Homo sapiens: one gene and its partners. The protein of the gene in region 4 interacts with the protein of the main gene of each other region in a pairwise test. Each region holds a gene or a part of one and is shown on either strand. Other genes may lie near its edges.

What was found.
Region 1: the proteins of OPRM1 (region 4) and NELFA interact in a two-hybrid assay, tested with the Homo sapiens proteins (one large-scale study listed by BioGRID and IntAct).
Region 2: the proteins of OPRM1 (region 4) and CPLX1 interact in a two-hybrid assay, tested with the Homo sapiens proteins (one large-scale study listed by BioGRID and IntAct).
Region 3: the proteins of OPRM1 (region 4) and HS6ST1 interact in a two-hybrid assay, tested with the Homo sapiens proteins (one large-scale study listed by BioGRID and IntAct).

Annotation. Positions count from the first base shown.
Region 1 is NC_000004.12:2,002,434-2,006,001, forward strand, and holds part of NELFA (negative elongation factor A), read right to left. Parts: intron 1-3,568. UniProt on the Homo sapiens protein: Essential component of the NELF complex, a complex that negatively regulates the elongation of transcription by RNA polymerase II.
Region 2 is NC_000004.12:816,115-819,682, forward strand, and holds part of CPLX1 (complexin-1), read right to left. Parts: intron 1-3,568. UniProt on the Homo sapiens protein: Positively regulates a late step in exocytosis of various cytoplasmic vesicles, such as synaptic vesicles and other secretory vesicles.
Region 3 is NC_000002.12:128,270,315-128,273,882, forward strand, and holds part of HS6ST1 (heparan-sulfate 6-O-sulfotransferase 1), read right to left. Parts: intron 1-3,568. UniProt on the Homo sapiens protein: 6-O-sulfation enzyme which catalyzes the transfer of sulfate from 3'-phosphoadenosine 5'-phosphosulfate (PAPS) to position 6 of the N-sulfoglucosamine residue (GlcNS) of heparan sulfate.
Region 4 is NC_000006.12:154,126,197-154,129,572, forward strand, and holds part of OPRM1 (mu-type opioid receptor), read left to right. Parts: 3' UTR 1-3,376. UniProt on the Homo sapiens protein: Receptor for endogenous opioids such as beta-endorphin and endomorphin. Receptor for natural and synthetic opioids including morphine, heroin, DAMGO, fentanyl, etorphine, buprenorphin and methadone.

The DNA of each region.
Region 1 (3,568 bases), on a different chromosome or scaffold from region 4:
AGCAAAAAGAACAAAGCTGGAGGCATCACGCTACCTGACTTCAAACTACACTTACAAGGCTACAGTAACCAAAACAGCATGGTACTGGTACCACAACAGACCTACAGACCAATGGAGAAGAACAGGGACCTCAGAAATAACACCACACATCTACCAGCATCTGATCTTTGACAAACCTGACAAAAACAAGCGATGGGGAAAGGATCTTCTATTCAGTAAATGGTGCTGGGAAAACTGGCTAGCCATATGTAGAAAACTGAAACTGGACCTCTTCCTTACACCTCATACAAAAATTAACTCAAGATGCATTAAAAACTTAAATGTAAAACCCAAAACCATAAAAATCCTAGAAGAAAACCTAGGCAATACCATTCAGGACACAGTCACGGCCAACAACTTCATGACAAAAATGCCAAAAGCAATAGCAACAAAAGCCAAAATTGACAAATGGGATCTAATTAAACTAAAGAGCTTCTGCTCAGCAAAAGAAACTATCATCAGAGTGAAGAGGCAACCTACAGAATGGGAGAAAATTTTTGCAATCTACTCATCTGACAAAGGGCTAATATCCAGCATTTACAAGGAACTTAAACATATTTGTAAGAGAAAAACAACCCCATCAAAAAGTGGGCAAAGGAGGTGAACAGATACCTCTCAAAAGAAGACATTTATGAGGCCAATAAACATGAAGAAAAGCTCTACGTCACTGATCATCAGAGAAATGCAAATCAAAACCACAATGAGATACCATCTCACGCCAGTCAGAAGGGTGATTACTAAAAAGTCAGGAAACAATAGATGCTAGCGAGGCTGTGGAGAAATAGGAAGGCTTTTACACTTTTGCTGGGAGTGTAAATTAGTTCAACCATTGTGGAAGACAGCATGGCGATTCCTCAAGGATCTAACACCAGAAATACCATTTGACCCAGCAATCCTGTTACTGGATATATACCCAAAGGAATATAAATCATTCTGCTATAAAGACACACGTACAGGTATGTTTACTGCAGCACTGCTTAGAATAGCAAGGACATGGAACCAACCCAAATGCCCATCAATGATGGACTGGATAAAGAAAATGTGATACATATACACCATGGAATACTACGCAGCCATAAAAAGGAATGAGATCCTGTCCTTTGCAGGGACATGGATGAAGCTGGAAGCCATCATCCTCAGCAAACTAACAAAGGAACAGAAAACCAAACATTGCATGTTCTCACTCATAAGTGGCAGGTAGTTGAACACTGAGAACACATGCACACAGAGAGGGGAACAACACACACCAGGGCCTAATAGGGGTGGGAGTGAGGGGAGGGAACTTAAAGGACGGGTCAATAGGTGCAGCAAACCATGGCACACGTATACCTATGTAACAAATCTGCATGTTCTGCATATGCATCCTTTTTTTTTTTTTTTTTTTAAAGAAGAAATAAAGGCCGGGAGCAGTGGCTCATGCCTGTAATCCCAGCACTTTGGGAGGCCAAGGCAGGTGGATCACAAGGTCAAGAGATGGAGACCATCCTGGCCAACACGGTGAAACCCCGTCTCCACTAAAAATACAAAAATTAGCTAATTAGCTGGGCATGGTGGCGCGTGTCTCTAGTCCCAGCTACTCGGGAGGCTGAGGCAGGAGAATCCCTTGAACCTGGGAGGCGCAGGTTGTGGTGAGCCGAGATCGCGCCACTGCACTCCAGCCTGGCGACAGGGCAAGACTCTGTTTCAAAAAAAAGAAAAAAAAAGAAGAAGAAGAAAAAAGAAAACATTACATTAAGTGAAAGAAGTCAGGCACAAAAGACCAGATGTATGATTCTATTTATATAAAATATCCTGAATAGACAAATCTATAGAAGCAAAAAGTAGATTACTAGTCACCTAGGAGTGGGGAGGAAGAGGACTGGGCAAATGCTAATGAGTGTAGGATTTATTTGGGGGATGATGAAAATGTTTGAAAATTGACTAGCATGACCATCAAACCTGTAAATATACTAAAAACTACTGAAGTGTACATTTTAAATGGTGAACTACCTGGCATAATTATATGGTACATAAAATAATATCTTTTTTCTTTTGAGACAGGGTCTCATTCTGTCGGCCAGGCTAGAGTGCAGTGATGCAATCATGGCTCGCCGCATCCTCAACCTCCCAGGCTCAAGTGATCCTCTCGCCACAGCCTCCCAAGTAGCTGGGACCACAGCCATGTGCCGCCACCCCTGGCTAATTTTTATATTTTTTATGGAGACAGGGTTTCACCATATTGCTCAGGCTGATCTCGAATGCCTGGGTTCAAGCAATCCGCCCATCTTGGCCTCCCAAAGTGCTGAGATTACAGGCATGAGCTACTGCACCCAGCTATACATTATATTTTAATAAAGCTTTTTTTTTTTTTTTGGAGACAGAGTCTTGCTGTCGCCCAGGCTGGAGTGCAGTGGCGCGATCTCAGCTCACTGCAAGCTCTGCCTCCTGGGTTCACGGCATTCTTCTGCTTCAGCCTCCCTAGTAGCTGGGACTACAGGCGCCTGCCACCATGCCCGGCTAATTTTTTTGTATTTTTTCTTTAGAGACGGGGTTTCACCATGTTAGCCAGGATGGTCTCGATCTCCTGGCCTCGTGATCCGCCCGCCTCGGCCTCCCAAAGTGCTGGGATTACAGGTGTGAGCTACTGCACCCAGCCAATAAAGCTATTTTAAAAAAATTCATGATTAAAAGATTTTTTTTTACAAGTCTTCTAAGAAGAGAATTTCCTTAACTAGATAAAGGGTATTTATTAAAGACAACAGGAAACATAATGCTCACTGGCAAAACATTCCGAGTTCTCCCTGTGTGATCGGAGGTAAGACAATGAGCTGGAGGGTCCTAGCCAGTCCAGTGAGACGAGAAAAAAAACAAAAGGTAATTGGAGAAAGAAAAATAATATGAAGTGCACAGAAAAATCAAGGAGATTCTATAGAAAAAAAAAATTTTGCAACTAGCAAAACTTTAGCACAGATACTAGTCACAAATTCATTATCCAAAAATCAGGCTGGGCATAGTGGCTCACCTGAGGTCAGGAGTTCGAGAGCAGCCTGGCCAACATGGTGAAACCCCATCTCTACTAAAAATACAAAAATTAGCCAGGTGTGGTGGTGCATGCCTGTAATCCCAGTTACTCGGGAAGCTAAGGTAGGAGAATCACCTGAGCTCAGGAGGAGGAGGTTGCAGTGAGCTGAGATCGCGCCACTGCTCTCCAGCCTGGGTGAGAGAGTGAGATCTCCGTCTAAAAAACAAACAAACAAACAAACAAACAAAAACAAAAATCAACGCATTTCTATATACCAGCAACAAGTAAAAACTAAGACTTTAACAGATACCATTTACAACGGCATGGAAAAATATGAAATAGGTGGTAATATATGAGATGGAAGACCCCTACAGAGATCACAAAGAACATCTAAATAGATAAGCCCACACCCACAAATTATAGGATGCAATATAAAGAGGACAGCACCCCAGAATGAACTGCAAGTTCAGCTCAGCCTTAAAATCCCAGCAGGCAGGCTCTACGTGTTTAAGAAGTAAGTATATAAGA
Region 2 (3,568 bases), on a different chromosome or scaffold from region 4:
TCACTGACTGCACTCACTAGTCCTAATAAATCAACAGCACTAGCAACTTTGCAGTGTCTCTTAAATTTACAAGTGGATCTGAAGGCATTCTCCGTGAAATTTTTTTTTTTTTTTTTTTTTTTGAGACAGAGTCTCACTCTGTCACCCAGGCTGGAGTGCAGTGGTGCAGTCTCGGCTCACTGCAACTTCCGCCTCCCGGGTTCAAGCAATTCTCCTGCCTCAGTCTCCAGAGTAGCTGGGATTACAGGCGCCCACCACCACACCCGGCTAACTTTTGTGTTTTTAGTAGAGAACAGGGTTTCACCATGTTGGCCAGGCTGGTCTTGAACTCCTGACCTCGTGATCCACCTGCCTCAGCCTCCCAAAGTGCTGGGATTACAGGCATAAGCCACTGCGCCCGGCCAAAAATATTCATAAATGAAGTGATGAATGATTTCAAAACAATGCAGTATCTCAATTTTCCCAGTGATTTTCTCATATCACTTCTTTATACTTATTATTTGAATTCTCTTCCTAGCCTGGGAAACATGGTGGGACCCTGTCTTAAAAAAAAAAAAATTAGCCAAGTGTGGTGGTACACACCTATAGTCCCAGTTATTCAGGAGGCTAAGGTAGAAGGCTCACTTGAGCCCGGGATGTTGAGGCTGCAGTGAGCTGTGATCGCTCCACTGCACTCCAGCCTGGGCGACAGAGCGAGACCCTGTCTCAAAAATTACAAAGACCAAAAGATGGGAGAGGAGTCGGAAGAGTATAAAGTGTGCAGAAGTCCTGGAAGTGTGTTGGCAAGGACTGGAAATACACTGCATCATTTTCAACTCTGGCAAGTAGAGCTTACATCATGTTTTCAAAGAGCACGCACATTCCAAAGCACTGCAGAGGTTTTAAAGAGAAAATGTGGTCCCTACATTAAGTTAAAATAAATGAAACAGCAAGAAAGCGTTTAAAAAGGCAACAACAAAGATGACAGAGGTTAGATCACATATGTTGGTCAAAACAGTGCACATTAAACAGATGCATTAAGGCTCCAATTAGATAAAAAATGAAATCCAACTACATGTATTTCTGAATGGCAACCCACATAAAGTGACAGAAACGTTAAGCAAGGCTCAGCAGGGGCACACTGGGTGAATGTAAAAAAAAAAAAAAAAAAAAATTCAGGCCGGGCGCAGTGGCTCACGCCTGTAATCCCAGCACTTTGGGAGGCCGGGGCAGGTGGATTGCCTGGGTTCAGGAGTTCGAGACCAGCCTGGGCAACACAGTGAAACCCCGTCTCTACTAAAAAAAAAAAAAAAAATTAGCCAGGCGTGGTGGCAGGCACCTGTAATCCCAGCTACTCAGGAGGCTGAGGCAGGAGAATCGCTTGAACCCAGGAGGCGGAGGTTATATGAGCTGAGATTGCGCCACTGCACTCCAGCCTGGGCAATAGAGCGAGACTCTGTCTCAAAAAGAAAAAAAAAATCAGTCCAAGGAGACTCCTAGGCAAAAATTAAAACAAGACCCAGCATAATCAGGATAATTTAATATTAATTAAGAGAAAAATTTTAAGTAAGGATGGAGCATCAGGAATCCCTACCCACTGATGACTGCAGTGACCGCCCCCTTCCCTCACGCCCCCTTGGCCATGAGGATTTCCTCCTCCAGGCCCTGGGGCTCCCTTCCCCTCCACTTCCATCTGGAGATGCTGCTGGCCAGAGACCCTCCCCAGGTGCCCATTGGAGGGTGCATTGTTCCCACCAGCCGTGAGGGGAGGTCCTGTGGGCACGCTGGACATAGTATCTCAGAATATTTTCCCCATCCGGTGTCAAGGAATAAACCAGCATCTGAGGAGCCAAGTCTGACAGGGGACACTGGAGGCGCCACCGCCCTCGGGGGTGGCTCACTGTCCACCTGTCATCCCTGAGCGCATTGGGCAAGGTCAGAAGAATGACCACAGGTGAATCTGGTGTAAAAGAAGGTTGGCTTTTGGCTCCTGTTCTTGCATTGCAGACAAGCCCACACCCCTCCTGAGAGCTGGGTGTCCAGCCTGCTGCCCGAGAGGCCCCAGTGCAGCTGAGCACAGGTCCAAGCCAAGCCTGGTTCGCCCCAGCCCTTGGGGAGGGGAGGCACCGAGGCGCTGGAGAGGTGTTGCAGCACCGGGCCATGCCCGCCTGACCTGCTCACCTGCTGACACCCAGGGGCCCTGGGCCTGGCTGGCCGCCACCACCTTACTTTGTCAAGCTGATTGTGGACCAGCCCCAGCCCCGCCACGGGCCTCGACTGCCACCGTCTCAGAGAGGCTGACATGGTGGCCTCACAGGTCCCCGGGCCCAGCGTCTGATGCACGTCCTGCAATGCTCCCTCTGTTTTGCGCCCACGCTGAAGTGCCACAAACACCTCTTCTCTCCTCAGCAACTCTGGTGGCTTTGCAGATCTTCATTAGCTCACCTGGGATGAGACGCTGACCTGAGCTGGAGCTGGGGTCCTGCAACCATGGCCAAGGCCCCCCGTCCACACCGCCGAGGCCAGGAAAGCCGCGCCATGTGAGTGACGGGAAGAGGCCGAATGAGGGCCAAGGATTACAACTGTCCTGGAAACCGGCGGCTGCGCCATCTGCCGCCGAGCTTGGCACTGTTTGGGTCACTTATTGGCACGTCCACCTCGCCTGTCTCCACGCATCCTCTCCTGAAAGCGAGGACCAGGTGCTGTATTGAAGAGCTGGGCGCTCGGTCCGCAGGCAAGGACAGCAGTGCCCGCGGCCAAGGACGGTGCTGGACTGGATGGTGGAGCTGGAGGGTGGGGCCTCGCCTCATCCCGGGGGACCGCCTAGTGGAAGGGCTGCCAGGCACTCAGTGTCCCCCTCGTCTGATCTCCGTGTGGACCAGGAGACCCAGGTTCTCTGAAGTTTGGCAGCATCAGATTTGCGTGGACTCAATGTTCATTCTGAAGCTTTCATCAGTTCCCTGTTCTGTCTGATGTCCCAGCATTAAACGCTCTGCGCTCCCCGTGCGAGTCCAGCAGCGTCTGATGGCAGCAAAGCGGGACTGAAGTAGTCCTGTCACGCAGGAGCTATTGAAACAAATGCTCTAACCCCAACTGGAACGTCTTGCCAACCAATGAGGCAAAAACATAAATAACTTTGTCAGTTGAAGTGCATAATATCCATTTTATTCCCAAGTTGGGGCTAAAGTATTTATAATTGAGTTGCAGCTTAATCAACCAAGAGCATCCTCTCTGGAGGAAAGGACTGCCCTTCACGGTTTCGGGAGGAAAGGCAGTTTCTCTGAAGGGTCCTTCCAGCCTCCCAGAAATCTGGGATAAGAGGCATCTCTGCCGAACCCAGCAAAGTGAGTGAGTGCTTTCTCGACCACACGGCGTTTGTGAAGTCCGTTCTGAACAAATGTTGGCATTTTACTGTTAAGTGTTTGCAAACTGCCTTTCGAGCACATGCCTTGTTCCAAGGAGTAAGGCTGGGAAGGACACACTGCTGGGGGGTCATTGCCTAGCGGTTCTGCACCTAGAAACCAAGTCTCCCCAAGTTGGGTGTGAGTCAGGCACTGTGGGACGCCTGCCCAACACCCGGCCTCTGTTT
Region 3 (3,568 bases), on a different chromosome or scaffold from region 4:
GGGGCAGATAAGCTGTGGGCAGCAGGGGCGAGAGCAGGCCTCAGTTTCCCTGCTCCAGGCTCCCACTTCACACGTCCCAAGGCACACCTGGCCCTCCCCAAGCACCCTGCACCCACAGCCTGCCTGGTACCACCCATCCATGCTGATGGCAGCAGCTCCTGGGCACTCGGGGCCTCAAGGGCCAGAGGGCGGGACCTTCTTCAGGTAGCAGGTGAGACAAACGTTTTAGAAACAATAATGACCAAGGGCCAGGGAGTAAGGGCCCGAGGCGGCCGGGGCAGGCTTCTGTCTCCTGCCTCAGGCTCACGAGGCCCTGACTGCTCAGAAGAGGCTATCCATATCCTTCCTAGCTGACCCTGTGTCCAGGGGAGGCATAGGGCCGCATGGACCTCCGCTCCCCACTCCTGTGGGGCCGTGACCAAATGGATGGAGACAGGCCAGTGTGGCAGGTTTCTTCTGAACACAAAAAACCACAGTGTGATGTGTCCACCAACAGAGAAGCTTGCCCTCCTAGCCCCAGCCAATGACCCTGTGAGTTACAGCCACAAGGACTCTGGCCCCAAGGGTGACTCTGAGGGCAAGGACACGCTGTGCACAGTGCAGCAGGCCCCATCTGGGAAACACAAATGGCTCAGTTCCTCTCCCATTTTCAGCGCCCCAGCCCACAGGCGGGTCCTTCAGCCCCAGCCCCACACCCATTCAGGGACCATCCCCTGAAGCCCAAGGCATGCCTCCATCATGAGCTCCTCTGCCCATGGCCCAGAGAGGGTGTGTGACTTGCCCAGGGCCACAGAGTCATGACACTGGCCAGGGTCTGTGCTAGCTGACTGGAAGACCTGCAGAGCAAGCTGCCCTGTGCCTGGTTAGCAGCGGGGACAGATCCCGTCAGAGGCCCAAGCATGCAAGGGCTTGGCACCCTGCAGATGGGGTCTCCCATGGTGTAGCCTGTGCCTGTGTGTGTATCGTGCAGGCTCCAGAAGACGCTGATGAGCCTTAGAGCCTGCTGGTCATGTCTGGAGCCACCTAGCCAGCGCTGGGCCTAATGACTGAGGGAGCAGGCAGAAGTGGTGTGAGGCCCCTCGGTGGAAGGGCTGCTTCTGGGCTGGTGGAGGGTCCGGGTCACCTGCCTGGCTCCCACCTGGGAATGCATGCAGGCACCAGGCCTCGATCCAGCCTGTTCCTGGACAAGGGCCCTGGCTCCTCAGCTCTGGGGGTGCAGAACACGGGGAAATGCGAGGGAGGGAGCACAAAGCGGGGAGCTCGTGGCCAGGCTGTGAAGTGTTTCTGCTCAGTTCTGTCCGCCCCTGCTGTCAAAGCCTCCAGCTTCATGGCAGGACAGACTCTACCTGCCCTCACCCTCCTGCTCACAGTGGGCGGCTGCAGCCCCAGAAGACGCAGCACTCAAAGCTGGGGTTGCCACCTGCCACGATCCTGGCCTGCAGTGACGGGTGGGCACGAGGGCCCCGATTGACCCGAGGGCTTTCCCCTCCTGGGAGGAACTCATTCCTCAGCCGCACACAGTGGTCTGACCACACCGTGGGTCTTGGCAGCCAAGCTCGAGCGGCTGCCACTAGGGCACATAACTGCAAATGCCAGGTCAGCACCAGAGCACAGAGGGATGGAGGTGAAGCCGGCACCTTGGGAAGGGCCAAGACATGGTCTACACCAACCCCATACCCAGGTCCCCTGGGCGTTCAGATGGCCCCTGGCCACCTGAAGGCAGGAGCCTGGTGGTGAGGGCAGCCATGGGCCACAGCCACAAGGCTCCCTTCTCTAAGTCCCTTCTCCCTGGCAGCGACGTTTCTGAATGACAGCCTCCTCACCCCTGCAAAGCTCAGGGCCTCTGCCGTGGAGGGGCTGGAGCGTCTACCTGCTGCCCTCCCGATGTGGCCTGGTGCCCCCTCCCCTCCCCAGCACCGTCACGGTCTGCAGGTAGGAGGACACGGGTATATCACCCCTGGTCTCTGCATGGGCCATGCCCTTCACTGGAATGCCAGTGTGAGTGACCGCCCCTTGGTCAGACCTCTCCACCTTTAAGACCCAGCTCAAAAAGATAAGCGGTTGCCAGTGCAGGAGTGCGAGAAGAGCCCAGAGCACCCAGCAGGCACATGTAGTATGCACAGTGGGCCGGCTCTAGTAGCCCCAGATGGCACGCGACCTACTGACCATCACGGGTGGGGGTGGCAGCAGGCTCAGTTACCACGTGTCCGACGGCAGCATCCTCTCTACACAGCTGAGGGGACACAGCTGAGGGGAACAAAGGCCTCTCTGCCTGCGCCTGCAGGGGCAGTGTCTTGAGGGGACAGTGAGACCCCAGGGCAACTGAGGCAGAGTTGGGGGCCAGAGACAGGGAGGAGAGAAGAGGGCTCGATTTTCTGGGTCCAGCCATTGAAATGACTCGGGTTTTTTGTGTGTGAGCCACTTAGAGAAGCCGTGAGCAATTTACTCTTTGGTTTCTGAAAAAGCTGGGAGGGTGAGCTGCTGAAGACAGACACTCATTTGAAAGCCATCTAAGTCCGGGGCCCTCAGAGGACTGGAGGGGAAGCTTTCTCCTTTACTGCCCCAGGCCTGGCTCTCTCCTCTGCCAAGGCCTTCTGTGCACAGGAGGTCTAGCAGGCACCAACAGGGGCAACGGCAGGGGAAAGGGGCACCTGAGCCAGCGAAAGCCCTCATGGTCCCTGGAATGACCAAGCCTGTCAGCCTCACCTGTCCTTCCTGCGCCCATGTCCCACATAACCCTTCTGGACCAAGGCCTCCCGCTGCAGGGACAGCTGCTGGGGAACCACACCAGGGAGGCGGGTGTGTTCAAAGATATTAGCAGTGCTGGCCCAGCGGCTCTGCGTCTTGTAATAAAATGGCGCAACGGACACTGCACCTGGGGGAGCCTTAGGAGCTGACCGAGGCCCCTGCCCTAAGGCCCAATGGCTTACGCTGTCCCCACGGCTCCCTGTGCACCTTCTCTGCTCAGAACATTGCCATGCCCTGGGTCCCCTTGTTCTGTCCCCTAGACACGGCCTGTGGTATAGACAAAGGGCCAGCCAGACTCTAGAAGCTGCCTGTGAGGCCAGCAGCCAAATGTGGGTGTTCCTGCCCCTTTCTGCAGATGTGACAGCTGATCCAGGCAGGGTGACCTGCCCTTGGCCACCGTCCAGTTCCTACCTACACCTGCCTGAACGGTATGGAAGCCACTACCTGGCACGCCCCTCCATAGCCGGTGGGACTCTTTAGGAGCCAGAGGCGTCCAGTCCCATGCCCAACACGCAGAGCCCTCCCCTCCCCTCTGCCTTGTCCCCTTCCCTCTGCCAAACACTGCAGGCACTGCTGGCCACAGGCACGTCCTGGCCATCCTCTGGTCTGGTGCCCCAGCTGCGCCTTGCCCTGTCCCACCTCCTGTGCTCCGTCCTCTTTCCTCCATTGCATGCGTTGCCAGACGCATCTGCTGTTTACTCTCCAGTCTGTCATCTGCCAAAAGGCGGGGTGGAGGTGTCAAACAGAAGCAGGAAGAGGGCGGGGTGTGGCGAGGTGCAGAGGACTCCCCAAATGGCCCACCCCAGATCTAGGCAGCTCT
Region 4 (3,376 bases):
AAAAAAAAGAGGAAATAAAGAAGACAACTCTTTTCCTAAGAGTCTGGGTAAAATTGAACATAGCCATATTCACTGAACAACATGAGTGAGCTTCATTAATTTAAGCACAGCAAAACTGCTTTAATTAACAAGACCAGAGAGAAGGGAGAGGAGACTACATTTGTGTGACCTAATGGTTGTGATTTCACTGTCCAAGAGGACAAAGACAAAGAAATTCTGGGAAGGAGAACAACAATTATATTCCCCCATTTCAAGAAGGGCAGAAGTGTCCCAACACTACCCAATATTTGCAAAATTCAAATGTCTCATAGGCTCTTCTTCCCTGGTTCCCTCAGGAGCTGGGTTTCTGGGTTGCAGAAGTGCTTTTCATATTCTGTATCTGGTTGTGGTGGCAATGTCACCACCCTACACTGCTGTGACACCGAAACAACCAAGCCTAGAATCAGCTGGTGCCTCTTTTCATCTGCAGGGTAGATTTGGCTTCCATGGTTGTTCACTGCTCTGTGTTAGGAAGGCTCAGTGACAGGTGTACAGCCTTCAGTAATGCCTCAAAGGTTCTCCAAGCAGAGGTAAACATGTGGGTCCTGCTGGTGACATATTAGACTTCTTACTTTCCCCAAATAAAAAAGTGCCTGCTGGGCGCGGTGGCTCACGCCTGTAATTCCAGCACTTTGGGAGGCCGAGGCGGGCGGAACACAAGGTCAGGAGATCAAGACCATCCTGGCCAATATGGTAAAACCCCATCTCTACTAAAAATACAAAATTAGGAAGGCGTGGTGGTGCACGCCTGTAATCCCAGCTAGTCGGGAGGCTGAGGCAGGAGAATTGCTTGAACTGGGGAGGCGGAAGTTGCAGTGAGCCAAGATCGCAGCATTGCACTCCAGCCTGGGCAACAGAATGAGATTGTCTCAAAAAAAAAAAAAAGTGCCACATGCCATGCTATGTGCCCAAAGTTTCCTTCACACAACACAGCCTTGAGATGCAGTATTAAATTCTACACTTTTCCTACCATAGTGATACATGTGGCTTTTCTTTGCTGTGTTCTGAGATGTCATGCTTTGAAATCAGTGGCCATTATCATCTAAGGATTCCGCCAGAGACTTCCAAAAGAAGAGGTCTCATTTATAAAGTGAATTTGAATAAAATGACCAGTTAGGTGTTTTCAGAAACACCTATGCCCTACTTGCCTACTCTTCAAGGGTTTAGGGGCTTAGGGGGAGGTTTTGTTTGGGTTTTTTGTTGCTGTTGCTTGTTTATTTGTTTGTTGTGTTTAAGACGTTTTACTTGTCCCTGAAATGTTTGTCATCACACAGATACACGCTCAGGATAAGAACTACCAGACTAGATTAGGAGGTCCACACCACCAATTGAGATGTACCTGTGCTCATGACTTGACATTGTGGTGGGCCGGCTACAACCCTCCCCACCCCTCGCTTTCACTAAATAACAACTCTCTTCTCTCCATCATTTTGACTTAGAGCCAGTCAGAATTCAATCTCCAATATCCTGACTAGCACAAGAAATCCATAGGTTGATTCTTGTTCTCCTGCATCTCTGCAGGTGGCAAACCTGATTCCTAATGCCTGTTCCTGCCTCTGCAGGGGTTCATTCAGAAAACAGGAAAATAACAAAGGCTTCCTGTAATTCTCTTTGGCTGTAATACAATTTGTTCCCGTCTGCCCCCAGGCTCACCCAGTGCTCTGTCTCAGTGGTAAGCTGTAACTGATCACTGCTGTATTAACTCAAAACTCATTTGCTTTATGGAAATTCATGGCCCTTATTTCTCAAGGGACCAGAGAAAACCAATAGGCCTACTCCCCAGCTGAGTACTTTCCATGCAAGCTACCGCATCTGTATAAATTAGGTTCAAATAACAGAGTATTTCCAGGATTTATAAATTCAGTATTACAAATAGTAATCTGGCAAGTGTTCTCAGGATCCCCTTGCTACCTGTAATTCAATCATATAACTTCTGAATGGGCTGGGGGAAAATAACAATAAGAAAAACTGGTGTTTACCTGAAGATCTGCCCAGTGATTTGTGTGTTTTCTTAATAAACTTTACCCACTTATTAAAAGAATAAAATGAAGGTGGAGTTAATTCTGACTACGGGATTCCTTTTTCACTTTTATAATGAACTCCTTCCTTCTAACTAAATCTTATCATAAGCAAATCTATGCACCAAATTATTTAGTACAATTCCTAATAACAGCTGAAGGACCATTTATTTGAAGCAATGTTCACCATAGCAAAATTCCAGTGAAGTCTAAGAACTGGGACAGTCCGTTGAGGATCCTTGTGCCAGGATGTATGTTGCCCCATGAATGTGCACATGCATATTAAAATATGGGCACCTCTTTTAATTCTTTTTTTTCTCATAATAAGTTTGAAACTCACAGTAGGAAATTGAGAGATCAATTTGGTTACTGTTTTATCATTGATCCTGAAGACAGTTGAAGCAATCATACTGGTTGTTCTCGAACTAGCTGGTTTCCCAGAGACAGCTGGAGACTGAGCACATAAAGACATCATTGAGGAAAAAGGCTACCTTGTACCTCATGGAGAGCTGAAGGTCTGATAAATGGGAACTGCCAGGTAATAGCTATGCTATTTCTGACATAAATTTAAAAACTAGTATTGTTTCTTCTAGCTCTGTTTTTGCATAGTGCACAGAGATCTTTGTAAAAAACAGGAAATTAATGTTAAATTGGATCTATAAACATAAGTCAATTTGGCTCTATTATGTCAAAAGAGAATAGGAGTTTTAACTTATATCTGTGTTTTATTAATATTTTGAAGTATAGGAACCTCATGGTGTAGCAGGATGAGCCACAGACAAAACCTCTCAGACACCGAGTTGTAGAAGGAAGGGCTTTATTCAGCTGGGAGCATCGACCAGCTACTGTCTCAAAATCCAAGCTCCCTGAGTACACAATTTCTGTCCCTTTTAAGGGCTCACAACACTAGATTTCACATGAAAGGGTCGTGATTGATTTGAGCAAGCAAGGGGTATGTGACAGGGGCTGCATGCACCGGTGGTCTGGGAGGAACAGAACAGGACAGGGAGTTCTTCTATACAATAGAGAACAGAACAATGTTCTTCTATACAATGTAAGGAATCTATGAATAACATCGGCTTCTAAATCATAAGTTGATTTTTAACTACTGGGTTTAGGCCAGGCGGGCCCAGGCCTGGTTTCGGGCCTGGCGCTGAGCTGCCTGTATTTGGTTTTACTTCCTTGTTGTTTTTACTGAATATGAAACAATATAAAACAATGTGAGAGGGTCTTTCTCTCCTCTCAATGTCAACATCATATATGATTGGAGACTTCCACATAATTGAGTTTTAGTGCCCACTGTTACAGAAAATCATAAT